Linked DNA regions of Homo sapiens. The protein of the gene in region 2 purifies or fractionates together with the protein of the main gene of each other region. This does not show direct contact. Each region holds a gene or a part of one and is shown on either strand. Other genes may lie near its edges.

Evidence for each region. Proteins that work in one complex are often made in the same cells at the same time.
Region 1: the proteins of NFKBIL1 (region 2) and TNRC18 purify together in Homo sapiens (affinity purification with mass spectrometry; one large-scale study listed by BioGRID and IntAct). This does not show direct contact.
Region 3: the proteins of NFKBIL1 (region 2) and RNPS1 purify together in Homo sapiens (co-immunoprecipitation; 3 studies listed by BioGRID and IntAct, with this or other methods). This does not show direct contact.
Region 4: the proteins of NFKBIL1 (region 2) and UTP15 purify together in Homo sapiens (affinity purification with mass spectrometry; one large-scale study listed by BioGRID and IntAct). This does not show direct contact.

What each region holds. Positions count from the first base shown.
Region 1 is NC_000007.14:5,385,835-5,389,334, forward strand, and holds part of TNRC18 (trinucleotide repeat-containing gene 18 protein), read right to left. Parts: coding exon 1,838-3,500; intron 1-1,837.
Region 2 is NC_000006.12:31,550,006-31,555,057, reverse strand, and holds part of NFKBIL1 (NF-kappa-B inhibitor-like protein 1), read right to left. Parts: intron 1-5,052. UniProt on the Homo sapiens protein: Involved in the regulation of innate immune response. Acts as negative regulator of Toll-like receptor and interferon-regulatory factor (IRF) signaling pathways.
Region 3 is NC_000016.10:2,255,374-2,258,126, forward strand, and holds part of RNPS1 (RNA-binding protein with serine-rich domain 1), read right to left. Parts: intron 354-2,753; coding exon 212-353; intron 1-211. UniProt on the Homo sapiens protein: Part of pre- and post-splicing multiprotein mRNP complexes. Auxiliary component of the splicing-dependent multiprotein exon junction complex (EJC) deposited at splice junction on mRNAs.
Region 4 is NC_000005.10:73,575,743-73,579,242, reverse strand, and holds part of UTP15 (U3 small nucleolar RNA-associated protein 15 homolog), read right to left. Parts: intron 2,292-3,500; coding exon 2,207-2,291; intron 1,388-2,206; coding exon 1,238-1,387; intron 493-1,237; coding exon 391-492; intron 227-390; coding exon 93-226; intron 1-92. UniProt on the Homo sapiens protein: Ribosome biogenesis factor. Involved in nucleolar processing of pre-18S ribosomal RNA. Required for optimal pre-ribosomal RNA transcription by RNA polymerase I.

The sequences.
Region 1 (3,500 bases), on a different chromosome or scaffold from region 2:
TAGCTGGGCATGGTGGCGTGCACCTATAATCCCAGCTACTCAGAAGACTGAGGCATGAGAATCACTTGAACCCAGGAGGCGGAGGTTGCAGTGAGCCAAGATCATGCCATTGCACTCCAGCCTGGGCAACAGAGCAAAAGTCTGTCTCAAAAAAAAAAAAAAAAAAAAAAAAACAGATGCGGTGGCTCATGCCTGTAATCCCAGCACTTTGGGAGGCCGAGGCGGGTGGATCACTTGAGGTCAGGAGTTTGAGACGAGCCTGGCCAATATGGTGAAACCCTGTCTCTACTAAAAGATACAAAAGTTAGCCAGGCGTGATGGCACGCACCTGTAGTCCCAGCTACTCGGGAGGCTGAGGCAGGAGAATCGCTTGAACCCAGGAGGCAGAGGTTGCAGTGAGCAGAGACTGTGCCACTGCACTCCAGCCTGGGTGACAGAGCGAGACTCCATCTCAAAAAACAACAAAAAAAAAGTGACACAGGTAGGAGATTCAGTACTTTCGGAGGCCAAGGCAGGCGGATCATCTGAGGTCAGAAGTTTGAGACCAGCCTGGCCAACATGGCAAAACCCCATCTCTACTAAAAATACAAAAATTAGCCAGGCATGGTGATGCATACCTGTAATGCCAGCTACTGGGGAGACTGAGGCACAATCGCTTGAACCCAGGAGGCAGAGGTCGCAGTGAGCCAAGATGGCACCACTGTACTCCAGTCTGGGCAACAATGCAAGACTCTGTCTCCAAAAAAAAAAAAAGAAAAAGAAAAAATTAGTCGGGCGTGGTGGCGCATACCTGCGGTCCCAGCTACTTGGGAGGCTAAGGTTGGAGGATCGCTTGAGCCCAGGAGGTCAAGGCTACGGTAAGCTATGATCACACCACTGCACTCCACCCTGGGTAACAGAGCAAGACTCTATCTCTAAAACAAAATAATAATTTATAAACTAAAAATAAATAAAACAGGCTGGGGGCAGTGACTCACGCCTGTAATGCCCAGCACTTTGGAAGGCTGAGATGGGCGGATCACCTGAGGTCAGGAGTTCGAGACCAGCCTGACCAACTTGGAGAAACCCTGTCTCTACTAAAAACACAAAATTAGCCAAGCATGGTGGCACATGTCTGTAATCCCAGCTACTCTGGAGGCTGAGCCAGGAGAATCACTTGAACTTGGGAGGCGGAGGTTGCGGTGAGCTGAGATCGTGCCATTGGACTCCAGCCTGGGCAACAAGAGTGAAACTCCGTTTCAAAAATAAATAAATAAATAAAACAATTCTAAAGAATCCAAAATATAACAGATACTCATAAACCACTTACAGGCACGTAAACTCTCTACCTACCTAAAAAGTCACTCAAGTACTGAGTATCAAGACCGTGAGGATGTTGGAACCCCAGTTTCTGTCTGTTCCTCACTCATTCACTCATCCATCAAACACCTACTACGTGCCAGAGCCCAGGCTGGCTAGGTACCGGGGACACTGGAATCGGTAAGGCACAGTTAGGTCCCTCGATGACTTCAAATTGAAGGTTTGATATTTGTCTATTCCCAAGACCATCTGTTCTCAGGAAATGACTGAAAGTATCACGAAGGTGCGATGCACACAAAGACTGAAAGCAACGTTCCGAACACAAAACATCGGAGAAGGAACAAACGAAAATGCCCATCAAGGGAGTGGAAAACTGAACCATGGTACATGCTCGCAACAGAACATTCAAGACCATTTTAAAAAATGATACTTATAAAGACTTAGCAATAGCAAAGGGAAAGGGCCCACACTGTAATGTACGGGAAACGGCAGAGAGACCCAAGATCCTACCCGCACCTGGGCTCTGCCCAGGACCTACCTTTGACGTTACTCAGCGACAGAGAGCGCTCCTGGTCTACCAGCCCAGGCCCCAGCCGGCCACTGCCGCCACTGTCCTTCTGCCGGGCCACAGCCACTGCAATGCCCACAGGCGGGTGTCGCACTTCTGCCTCACCCTGGGCACCAGAGCCCTCGCGCCCGAAAGCTTTGGCGCTCTCGGGCCTCTCGGGGTCCCGCTTCAGCTGCCGGCCGCCGCCCGCTGCAGGGCCTCCGGAGTGTGGGAGACGGGCCTGGGCTCGGGAGGCACCCGCAGAGGTGGGCGCAGGCTCGGGTTTCATGGTGCCCAAACCTCCAAAGGGGCTCTTCTTGCCACAGCCACCAGGGCGCACGGCCACGGCGTCCCGGGCAAAGCTGCCACTGTACTTTATAAGGCTCTGCATGGCCGAGGCCTCTCCAGACCCGTGGGCCGCAGAGTGCATGTCAGCGACCGGCCGGCCGCAGGTGGCCGCCGAGCGGGGCAGCACAGCCCCAGGGTCCAGGTAGGCCTTCTTGGAGGAGGAGGCAGCGACCACGGCGGCCTCCTCTTCGGCGCGGCTGTGGTGGTGCTGCGCGGCCAGCACGGCCATCTGCGTGGCGGCGAAGTTGCCCAGCTCGAAGGGTTTCCATTTATGCTCAGGGCCGGTGGGCGGGGGGCGCCCGGGCTCCAGGCCGAAGAGCTTGGCGGCCTGTTGGGCTGCAGGACCGGCTGGGCCGCGGGGCGCACGCTCGCAGGGCCTCGGGTCCGCCTCGGGCTTGAGCAGCTCCTTGGCAGGCACGTAGGCGCGGGGGTCCGGGGAGGCGCGTGTGGCCCGCACCGTGGGGGCATCCGCGGGGGGCGGCCGCTTGAGCGAGCGGATGACCGAGTTCTTCTCGCGCAGGCCCTCGGGCCGGTCCAGAGGCCGCGGGGAGCCGGGGGGCGCCTGCAGGACCCCTGGCCTGCCAGCCTCGCGCTCGCGGGCCCGGGCATCGCGCGCCTGGGATGCGATCTGGATGGGCCCCGGGCGCTCGTCGAAGGCCTCCACGGAAGGCACGAAGGTGGGCGCCACCACGCGGTGCTCACGGCCCTGCTCGCGGAAGACGGTGTAGACGCCGGCGGGGGTGGCCGCGGGGGGTGCAGGAGGCCCCTTGGGGGGCGCGGGCGGCGGGGGCAGCGGTGAGGGGCAGGGGCGCGGCCCAGGGAGCAGGGTCTCCGTGCGCCGCAGCAGCCGCGCGCCCTCGTCCTGCCGGGCAGCCTCCTTGGCACCCCCGCGCCCCGCTTCGGCCACCAGCGCGGGCAGCCCCACGTCCCCGGCGCCGCCGTTGCACATGGTCAGTACCGACGGCTGCAGCGCCGCATTCTTGGTCTTGGACTCAGCCAGGAAGGGCGACAGGCGCTCAGCCAGGCGCGGGGGCCCCCGGTCCTGGCGGCCCTCGGCGCGCGCCTCCTGGGTCAGGTCCACCACGCCCCGTGGCCCCGAGGCCTCCTCGCCCCGGGCGCGCGGGTCCTTCTTGCCGAAAAGCGGAGGCGGCTCCCCGCCGCGGCCCGCCCGCTCCTTGGCTGGACCGTCCCGCGACGACGAGCCTTTGGCCGGGGCGCCCGAGGAGTGGCCGCCGCCAGGGGTCCGGGCCGAGGGCGCGTGAGAGTGCAGGGAGCCCGGAGCCCCCGCGGTGGGCAGGTAGAAACC
Region 2 (5,052 bases):
TCCCTTCCAGTCCCACCTTGGTGTACCTAAAAGCATACATATGACACATTTATTTGGAGATATGTAACCATACTACAAATATTGCTTGGCAACTTGCTTCTTTCATTTAACATCTCATTTATATTTTTCCACAGGAATATATACAGTCTACCTCATACTTTTTGACGACTTTATAATTAGTGTTCCACTGTGTGTACAAAACAAATCTCCTTACCCCAATATCGATAGACTTTGTTTCAAAAAATGTTCAGCCTCATGAGTATCTTACAGTCTTTCTGTGGGGGTAGATTTTCATAAGTGGAATTTCTGAGTCAAAGGACATGCGCAATTTGGTCAAACTGCTCTCAATAAGTTTGTGCCAATATACAAGTGTGCCTATGTCTTCCTTTACCAAAATTGAATATCATCAACCCTTTTAATTTTGCCAGTTGGATAGATTAAAAAATTATTTTATTAACAATGTTTTTTTCTTTTTCATGTCTTTTGGCTATTTGTATTTTTTGTGAATGAATTGCTCATATTCTTTATCCACTTTTTCTTTGGAAATTATATATATTGATATGAGGGTTCTATATACTGTATGTGTTATACATATTGCAAACATTTTCTTCTATCTATCTTTAAAAAAGCTTTTTTTTTCTTTTTGAGACAAGGTCTCACCCTGTTGCCCAGGCTGCAGTGCGGTGGCATGATCTTGCTCACTGCAAACTCTGCCCCACCTGGGCTCAAGCGATCCTCCCACCTCAGCCTCCTGAGTAACTGGGACTACAGGACGACAGCCACGTACCACCACGCCTGGCTAATTTTGTATTTTTTGTACAGACCAGGTCTCACTGTGTTGTTCAGGCTGGTCTTGAACTCCTGGCTCAAGTGATCTGCCTACCTTGGCATCCCAAAGTGTGGGATTACAGGTGTGAGCTATCGCACCCGGCCTAAAATTTTCATGTAGTTAAATCTATATCAATATATTATTTTCTGACTTTTTATTTCACTTCACTCTTAGGAAGGCTCTATTTTAAGATTATAAAACATTCTCTGCATTTTCTTCTACTACTTTAGATGTATACTCATTTTTATTTTTAGAAATTAAAAAACTCGGCCAGGCGCGGTGGCTCATGCCTGTAATCCCAGCACTCTGGGAGCCCAAGGTGGGTGGATCATGAGGTCAGGAGTTCAAGACCAGTCTGGCCAAGATGGTGAAACCCCGTCTCCACTAAAAATACAAAAATTAGCCTGACGTGGTGGCGGATGCCTGTAATCCCAGCTACTTGGGAGGCTGAGGCAGAGAACTGCTTGAACCCGGGAGGCAGAGGTTGCAGTGAGCCAAGATTGCGCGACTGGACTCCAGCCTGGGTGACAGAGTGAGACTCTGTCTCAACAACAACAAAAAAGAAATTAAAAAACTCTCAAAAATACAAAGTATAATACAATACACAACCCCATTCCTACCACAGGGTTTGTTAATGTACTGTCATGTTTGTAGTATAATTTATTTTAAGGAAATAAAATCATCACAGATAAAGGTAGTTTACCGTGATACCGCCTTCCAAGTTTCATTCCTCCCCAGGCCATCTGTCCCATGAATTTGGTGTGTACCTTCCTGTCATATTCAGGTATTTAATCTGCTGGAATTTACTTTTTGATTAGGTGTGAGGTGGGACTCTTGTTTTTCCCTAGATGAGCCAAATGTTCCAATATTATTTATAAAATAGTTCACCTGGTCAGGCACAGTGGCTCATGCCTGTAATCCCAGCACTTTGGGAAGCTGAGGTGGGTGGATCACCTCAGGTCAGGACAGGAGTTTAAGACCAGCCTGGCCAACACGGTGAAACCCCCATCTCTACAAAAATACAAAAATTAGCTGGGCATGATGGCAGGTGCCCAGCTACTCAGGAGGCTGAGGCAGGAGAATTGCTTGAACCCGGGAGGCGGAGGTTGTAGCAAGCTGAGATTGCGCCATTGCACTCCAGCCTGGGTGACACAGCGAGACTCTGTCTCGGAAAAAAAAAAAAAAAAAAGTTCACCTTTCTCCAGTATTAGAAATGCCCCCTTTAGGCCTGGCGCGGTGGCTCACGCCTCTAATCCCAGCATTTTGGGAGGCCGAGGCGGGCGGATCATGAGGTCAGGAGTTCGAGACCAGCCTGGCCAACACAGTGAAACCCTGTCTCTACTAAAAATACAAAAAATTAGCTGGGCGTGGTGGCGGGCGCCTGTAATCCCAGCTACTTGGGAGGCTGAGGCAGGAGAATGGCTTGAACCTGGGAAGCGGAGCTTGCAGTGAGCCGAGATCACACTACTGCACTCCAGCTTGGGCGACAGAATGAGACTCCATCCCCCACTTCGCCAAAAAAAAAAAAAAAAAAAAAAAAAAAGAAATGCCGCCTTTATAGCGATTTACCAGATCAACCGTTCTCAATGCTCTTTAATACGCTGGAGTTTCATACTAAGAAAAATAAACATAAAAACATTTTGGCCAGGCGCTGTGGCTCACGCCTGTAATCCCAACACTTTGGGAGGCTGAGGTGAGCAGATCACAAGGTCAAGAGATCGAGACCATCCTGGCTAACATGGTGAAACCCCGTGTCTACTAAAAATACAAAAAATTAGCCAGGCGTGGTGGCATACGCCTACAGTCCCTACGCCTATAGTCCCAGCTACTTGGGAGGCTGAGGCAGGAGAATCTCTTGAACCTGGGAGGTGGAGGTTGCAGTGAGCCGAGATTGTGCCACTGCACTCCAGCCTGGGCGACAGAATGAGACTCCTTTTCAAACAAAACAAAACAAAACAAAACAGAAAACAAAAACAAAACCAAAAGACATTCTGTGGGATGGGCACGGTGGCTCATGCCTATAATCCCAACATTTTGGGAGGCTGAGGTGGGTGGATCACTTGAGGTCAGGAGTTTGAGACCAGCCTGGCCAACATGTTGAAACCCCATCTCTACTAAAAACACAAAAATTAGGTCGGGCATGGTGGCTCATGCCTGTAATCCCAGCACTTTGGGAGGCCGAGGCAGGTGGATCATCTAAGGTCAGGAGTTCGAGAGCAGTCTGGCCAACATGGTGAAACCCCATCTCTATTAAAAATACAAAAGTTAGTCGGGCATGGTGGCAGGCTCCTGTAGTCCCGGCTACTCAGGAGGCTGAGGAAGGAGAATCACTTGAACCCAGGAGGCGGAGGTGGCAGTGAGTCAAGATACTGCCACTGCACTCCAGCCTGGGGAACAGAGGGAGACTCCGTCTCAAAAATAAATAAACAAATAAAAATTTAAAAATTAATAAATAAAAATAAAAAAATTAGCTGGGCATGGTGGTGTGTGCCTGTAATCTCAGCTACTTGGGAGGCTGAAGCAGGAGAATCGCTTGAACCCAGGAAGCAGAAGTTATAGTGAGCCGAGATCATGCCACTGCACTCCAGCCTGGGCGACAAAGCAAGACTCCGTCTCAAAAGGAAAAGAAAAAGGAAGCTGGAAGCTGAATGAGATGGGCCTTTCAACCAAGGAGTTAGAAGGCCATCTGGTGGCAGGGCTGGCAGAGGACCAGGAGTAAATAAGGCCAGAGAGGACACCAGGGTCTGGGAGTGAAGGCACTGAGCTTGGGTCCCCCTTTGGAAGACAATGACCTGAGAGCTGTGAGATTTCAGACAAGTTCCCGAACCTTTTGGGCCCTGCTTTCCTCATCTGTAAATGGGATAATATCAGTCTCACCAGCTTCTTAAAATTCAATACAATGGAGTTGGGTGTGGTGGCTCACGCCTCTAGTCCCGGCACTTTGGGAAGCCGAGGTGGGCAGACTGTTTGAACTCAGGAGATGCAGAACAGCCTGGATAACATAGCAAAACAGTCTCTACCAAAAATACAAACAATTAGCTGGGCATGGTGGTGTGTGCTTGTAGTCCCAGCTACTAGGGAGGCTGAGGTGGGAGGACTGCTTGAGCCCACGAGGTAGAGGCTGCAGTGAGCCATGATTGCACCACTGCACTCCAGGCTGGGAGACAGAATGAGACCCTGTCTCAAAACAAACAAGCAAACAAACAATAAAGGAAATCCCTACCACACTATCAGGGGCATTTTGGCTGAGCGCGGTGGCTCACGCCTGTAATCCCAGCACTTTGGGAGGCTAGGCTGGCAGGTCACCTGAGGTCGGGAGTTTGAGACCAGCCTGACCAACACGGAGAAACCGTCTCTACCAAAAATACAAAATTAGCCGGGCGTGATGGTGCATGCCTGTAATCCCAGCTACTTGGGAGGCTGAGGCAGGAGAATCTCTTGAACCCAGGAGGCAGAGGTTGAGGTGGGCTGAAATCGCGCCATTGCACTCTAGCCTGGGCAACAACAGGGAAACTCCATCTCAAAAAAACAAAACAAAACAAAAAACAAAACTCCCATTTTTGCGAGGCAAATTGGGCTCACAGAGGTAAGCTGCATGTCCCTGTTGATGGCAGAGCTGGGGTCTGGATGCAGGTCTGCTTCGGGGTAATCCGCTCTTTTGCCTTCCAGGGTCCTGCCTCTTACAATATGAGCTGTCAAGTTAGATGCCTGCACTCAGTAAACCTACTCTGTTTTAAGTAAAAACAACAAGAAACAAATCTGAATATGCTAGCCTATCTCAGGTACGTTAAAGGAAATTTTTAAATAGGGGGTTTTTTGACCATTTGGGGGAGTTTTGGGGGAGGGGCCTTCTGTCTATACTTGAGCTGGGGGATGTTAGGGTTGTTCATCTGGATCTAGAGGTTTTCCTGTAATGTTCTTACTCCAGAAGGAAATCTCTAGATGGGGAAAGAAGGTTTCAGCTTTTATTCTAGTAAGCAGGGCTCTACCTATAAAGAGCTGCTTCCACCACTCTTTTTTTTTTTTTTGAGACGGAGTCTTGCTGTGTTGCCCAGGTTGGAATGCAGTAGTGCAATCTCGGCTCACCACAACCTCTGTCTTCCGGGTTCAAGTGATTCTCCTGCCTCAGCCTCCCAAGTAGCTGAGACTACAGGTGTGTGCCACCATGCCTGGCTAATTTTTGTATTTTTAGTACAGATGGGGGTTTCACTATGTTGGTCAGG
Region 3 (2,753 bases), on a different chromosome or scaffold from region 2:
GCTGTGTTGGTGCAACTCTAGGGCGTCTCCTGCCTGTGGCTTACTGCAGCTGTGGCCCTCCTGCTCTCTCCATGAGCTCTGAAGGGCTCCTGCTCTCTGCCAGCCCGCACAGCAGTGGAAGGCAGGCAGGGCTGAATAAAGGGTCTGAAAGTCACTGCGGTCACATGAGGTTTGTGGCCTGATCAGTCCACTGAAACTACAAATTGTTTACCTTCTCCTCATCCGTGGGGGAGACCTGCGCCACATAGGCGGTGGTGGCAACATTCTCCTGGGAGGGCTGAATCTCCTGGGGGGTGGCCTAGGCCAGGGGGCCAGCACGGCGGTGGCAGTGATCTCCTGGCCATCAATTTGTCCTGTTGAAAAAGACAGCAAGTCATAAAATATCTAACAAGCATCTACCCTAGACAATGCATGCCACAGTGAAAGACAGGCCTGGGGGGACAATGACAATGTAAGATAATCACAGAAACAGGGCCGGGCATGGTGGCTCACTCCTGTAATCCCAGCACTTTGGGAAGCTGAGGCAGGTGGATCACGAGGTCAGGAGATCGAGACCATCCTGGCTAACATGGTGAAAATGTCTCTACTAAAAAGACAATAAATCAGCTGTGCGAGGTGGCGGGCGCCTATAGTACCAGCTACTCGGGAGGCTGAGGCAGGAGAATGGCGTGAACCCGGGAGGCAGAGGCTGCAGTAAGCAGAGATCGTGCCACTACACTCCAGCCTGGGTAACAAGAGCGAAACTCCGTCTCAAAAAAAAAAAGATAATCACAGAAATAACATCATGACTAATGTTTCATGAGGAAAAGAGGCATAAAAACTAACAGGACACACCAATCTCCACGTGTCGAGGCAGCCTCCCAGGTCAAGAGTCATCCAAGTCAAGAGCTAAAGAATGTGCTGGAGGCCAGACGCGGAGGCTCACGCCTGTAATCCCAGTGCTCTGGGAAGCCAGGCAGGCGGATCACAATGTCAGGAGTTCGAGACCAGCCTGGCTAACATGGTGAAACCCCATCTCTACTAAAAATACAAAAATTAGCCGGGCGTGGTGGCGTGTGCCTGTAATCGCAGCTACTCGGGAGGCTGAGGCAAAACAATCTCTTGAACCCAGGAGGAGGAGGTTGCAGTGAGCTGACATCATGCCACGGCACTCTAGCCTGGGCAACAACTGAGACTCCGTCTCAAGAAAAAAAAAAGAAAAGTAAAGAATGTGCTGGAATCTGCTAGGTGGAAGAGAAGGGCTATGCTGGGCCCTGTGCTGGGAAGGACCCAAAGCACTGGTGAGAGAAGGTAGCATCGAGAGCGAGTGACAGGCAAACAGAAGGCCCCAGGGCCAGGGTGGGGCTTCCTCGCAGGACCATGCAGGCAGTATCCGCGTTTGCGCTTCCTTCTCCTCCAACCAAGGGAAGCTGGGTCTGGGGCTAAGAGAAGTGGGAGAAGTTCTCTTAGGAGGGCTCTGCAGCACTGAGAGGGGCCTGAATCAACATCAAATGATTTGGCAGGGAAACGGAAGGATTCAGGGGACAGCTGGGAAGTAAAATTGCCAGAGCTTGGTGATGGATGGGATGGGGGTGGTGAGGTGTGAACTTCCACTGACGGAGAGGTGGGGCTGCGGTGGGAAGCTGCATGAAGGAAATTTTAGGAGATGCCAAAGACTTTGTGTTTGGAAACAAGCAGTCTCAGAGAGGTGGCTCTGCATGTAGATGGCACTGAAACACACGCCATGTGCATGAAGCGAGGAGAGGCAGTGTGGGATGTGGGCTCCAGGGAGAGAGGAAAGGAAATAGAGGTGCAAACCCAGGAACCCCAGGGGAGCATGCACCCCGACCTCAAGAATTGTCTGGTAGCTGGGGATACTGGGAGCCCAAGCGCAGCCCCTTCTGTGCCCTAAGGGGTAAAGGGCTCTTTTGTTTTCTCAACTACCTTTAAGGCACATGGGGACTAACTCCGGCATGTGGCTATGTATTCAGAACATACTTAAGAGGTTTAACTTCAGTAAACTCAGCCTAAGTTAGCCCAAATTAGGGATTTCACAGCACTGACTCTATAATAATGAAGAAAAATCCATCTTCTGTGTAGCTGCCAGTAAAGGCCAACCCCTTCTCATCTCCTATGGAGACAGCATGGACTCACTCCATTCAAAGACAGAAGGGGAGACACACAAAAAAAATCCTACCAGAATCTTACGAAAAGTTGGAATGTCTGTAATCACGCCCACCCAGAAGGTACCCGGGTCCCCTGGGTTTTTAGCTCAGCAAGCACTCAGACTGTCAAACAGCAGATAATCAGCAGACTCCACAGCAAAGGTGTGACTTACAAGGCCAACAGCTGATGTGAGCGCACAGAGCTCCTAACCCATTTCAGGACTTAAGAAACTTGAAAGAAAAGTTAGCCAAATATCAAGGAAACTTTCCTAATGCCTGAAGGGCAATTACTGAAAAAAACCAGCTAAGCTACTTATACAGTTTGTAACAGGGCCTCGGAAGACGGAAAGTTCTGGGGCACGCACACTCCACTCCCCACCAGGCCTGGCAGCCCAGACAGCACTGTGGGCTGTGTTCTCAGTGCCAGCGGCCTCAGTCACAGCAGCAGGGAGTGGAGCAGAGATGACTCCACATGCCTCAAAATGCTGCACTGAGGACAAAATGCCACCCGAAACTATTCACAAGGGTCCATGTGCTTTTAAAACCATTCTGCCAGATACAAATAGCTATAAACGTCATGAGTGGTTATGAGATACAAGTGTTTAAGAA
Region 4 (3,500 bases), on a different chromosome or scaffold from region 2:
AGTTCTCTACAAAGATCAAACTAAATGTCTTTTATTTGGTGATAAAGGATTTCAGATGCAAAATGTAAGTGTTTCACAGACAAAAAACATACCTTATCAAAAAATTAAGAACATGACTGATTTCCTTCTCATCCCGACCTGCAAGCGCATTTGCAAGGACTCCTCTTCGATTTAACTCCTTTATGATGGACACCGTAATCTCGGGTGTCTTTATTGTACAAGTGGGCTAGAAAAATTTTCAAAGTCAACATGAGTAGACAAAACAGCACAAAAAAAATCACTGTCTTGCACTAAATTATCAAGTTTGAATAATATTTATCTTCACAGTTCCAAGTCATGGTAATATGCAGGGTAAGTAATAACATGATTTTTTAAAAAATGCTCACTCACATCAAGAACTCTATCGAGTGCCTTAGAGATCCGAAAATGTTTCAGATCCCTGTCATACAATTCTAGGTGCTTCTTTGCTGGCCTGTTAATCAAAATGTCATCCTGCAATGAAAAGTACATTTATAGAGAAGGAAAATCAGCATCTGTGTAAATATACATTTAATATAAACTTTTTCATAATGAAGTGGTATCTCTGAACTATGTCACAAATAATGTTCATATGCCCATAATGTAGATTAAATAAAAATGCATCCTGCTAATCAGAGTCAAAAAAAGAAAAAAAAAAAGGAGTAACTTGCTACATCAACATGTTCTTACTCTCTTATAATTTTAACTTACAACATGCACCATTGCCTTAATTCTAGGTAAAAATTACTCATTTCAATTCTCTTTATGTGGCAGGCAGTGTGGTACAGTAGAAAGAGAAATCAAACAACAATCAGAGATAATGAGATCTAGTCTCAACAACTCTGGATACCAGTAATGAAATCCTGAATCAATCACAAATTATTTGTCGCTCAGTCTTCTCAGGTGCCAAACAGGGACATGATTGGTTCTACTACTTCTTGGGATTTAGATCAAATCAGGTAGTATGTGAAAGACATTATTTTGAATGCAGTAAAGCATTATAACATTATGTTATGATGCAGAGTATTACATAAAGTAGTCCTTGTTCCCCATTACTCATCAATAATGTCCCCAATCTAGCAATCTAGAAATAATTCTGATGTAGAGAAAAGCAAAATAAAGTGCCATGTGAACTACGCTTTCCAGTAATGTGCAGGGATGAAGCTGGCTACTCTAACAAATTTCACCCTTTAAACAAATATGAGAAATGCACAAATACCCGTTGCTTCATGTAATTTTTTCCTTTAATAAAGGTTCGATATGCAGGCCTTCTTCTTCTGGGAAGTGATTCCTTCTTTGCTTCAGATTTCCGATGTTTAACACTCAGTATTCCATTGGTCATTCCTACAACTATTGTCTCATCTTCATGCTAATAACAATTAGAAAAATAAGTTAGTCTATTCTTAACTCGTAATTTATAGTACTTTTACTTCAAAACACATTTACCATGTGTTTGCTGCTTGTCCATACATTCACCAACAGTTCCATTCAAATACACATAGTCTGCCTAACGATGATTGGTGCAAGACGTTAAAGCGAAATCATTTTTTCCTTAGGATACAACTACATTGACAGAACTTATACTTGTAAAATATCACTGGCAAAGTTTGTATAATACATAGTTAACGGCATCAAAGATTACACAGTAGCAAGACTTTTATGATCTTGCCCCCCAAAAATATTTTTAATAAGCTTTTCCTCTCCCAAATCAGATTTCTATATAATATAGTCAAATGCCTTCCTGCCCAAATGTGGCTTCTCATAAAACTTGACAGTATACATTTCAGAAAGAGCAGTAACAAAGAAAAGGAGATATTTCATTTTGTTGTCCCCTTCTCCCCACATCTTTTTTTCTGCTCAGAGAGCTAATCTGCCTTTCTAGTGTACTATAATACTCTTGAGTTAAATGAGTTGAAGAGAGATTTACCAGCTTCCCAGGTCCTGCGTTTAATGTTAACAATGCCTAGAGCACTGTATTTAGTTTGAAGTTCTACAGTGAGTGGGACCTAAATCTGAATTCATGCTGAGTCAATAGGACGAGTTACATATTCCAGCAATTGTCTTAACTCAAATATCTGATGTGGCAAGAAAAGTTACTCAAATCTAAAAATAAAGCCCAAAGTTCCATTTTAGTTTCATTTAACAGGCAGGGTTAGTGACAGACTTAAAAATAGGTAAAGGTACTTACTGCAAGGGCAAGACTCAAAATTGAAGCTGCATAATCAAAACTGTGGACTACTTTGTAGGAAGTTGTGCTGTATACTTTCACCTTCCTAATAAAAAGGAAAAGCTTTGTCAAAAATCACCTTGAAAACGAGTATAAAATGCAAATTTCTATTTTCTGAAAACAAAATACAAACATTAAAATCTGTACAACAGTGAAGAAAAACAAAGATTAGTAATGTTAATTACAAACTAATTCATCACTGAATCCCTTAAAAAATGAGCTGTAGGCCGGACACGGTGGCTCACACCTGTAATTCAAGCACTTTGGGAGGCCAAGGTGGGTGAATCACCTGAGGTCAGGAGTTCGAGACCAGCCTGACCAACATGGTGAAACTCCATCTCTACTAAAAATACAAAATAGCTGGGCGTGGTGGCACATGCCTGTAATCCCAGCTACTTGGGAAGCTGAGGCAGGAGAATTGCTTGAACCTGGGAGGTGGAGGCTGCAGTGAGCCAAGATTGTGCCACTGCACTCCAGCCTGGGCGACAAGAGCAAAGCTCTGTCTAAAAAAAAAAAAAAAGAGCTGTATACCAGCCCTAACTATAACATCCGTATAAAAACTTTGACTAGCCACTTATAAAAAAAATAGAAGGGCCGGGTGTGGTGGCTCAGGTCTGTAATCCCAGCACTTCGGGAGGCCAAGGTGGGCAGATCACTTGAGGCCAGGAGTTCAAGACCAGCCTGGCCAACACGGCATAACCCGATGTCTACCAAAAATAATAAAAACTAGCCAGGTGTGGTGACACACACCTGTAATCCCAGCTACTCAGGAGGCTGAGGCATGAGAATTGCTTCAACCTGGGAGGCAGAGGTTGCAGTGAGCCGAAATCGTGCCACTGCCCTCCAGCCTGGGCCACAGAGTAAGACTCTGTTTCAAAAATTTAAAAAGAAAAAAAGGAAAAAAAAAAAACAGAAGGACAGACCATGAGCCACTGTCATCTGAAGATCAAACTTGGGAGTAAAGAAAAGGTATTAGCCGGGTGCGGTGGCTCACACCTGTAGTAATCCCAGCACTTTTGGAGGCCGAGGTGGGCAGATCACCTGAGGTCGGGAGTTAAAGAGCAGCCTGACCAACATGGAGAAACCCTGTCTCTACTAAAAATACAAAATCAGCCGGGCATGGTGGCACATGCCTGTAATCTCGGCTACTTGGGAGCTGAAGCAGGAGAATCACATGAACCCAGGAGGCAGAAGGTGCGGTGAGCCGAGACCGCGCCATTGCACTCCAGCCTGGGCAACAAGAGTGAAACTCCAT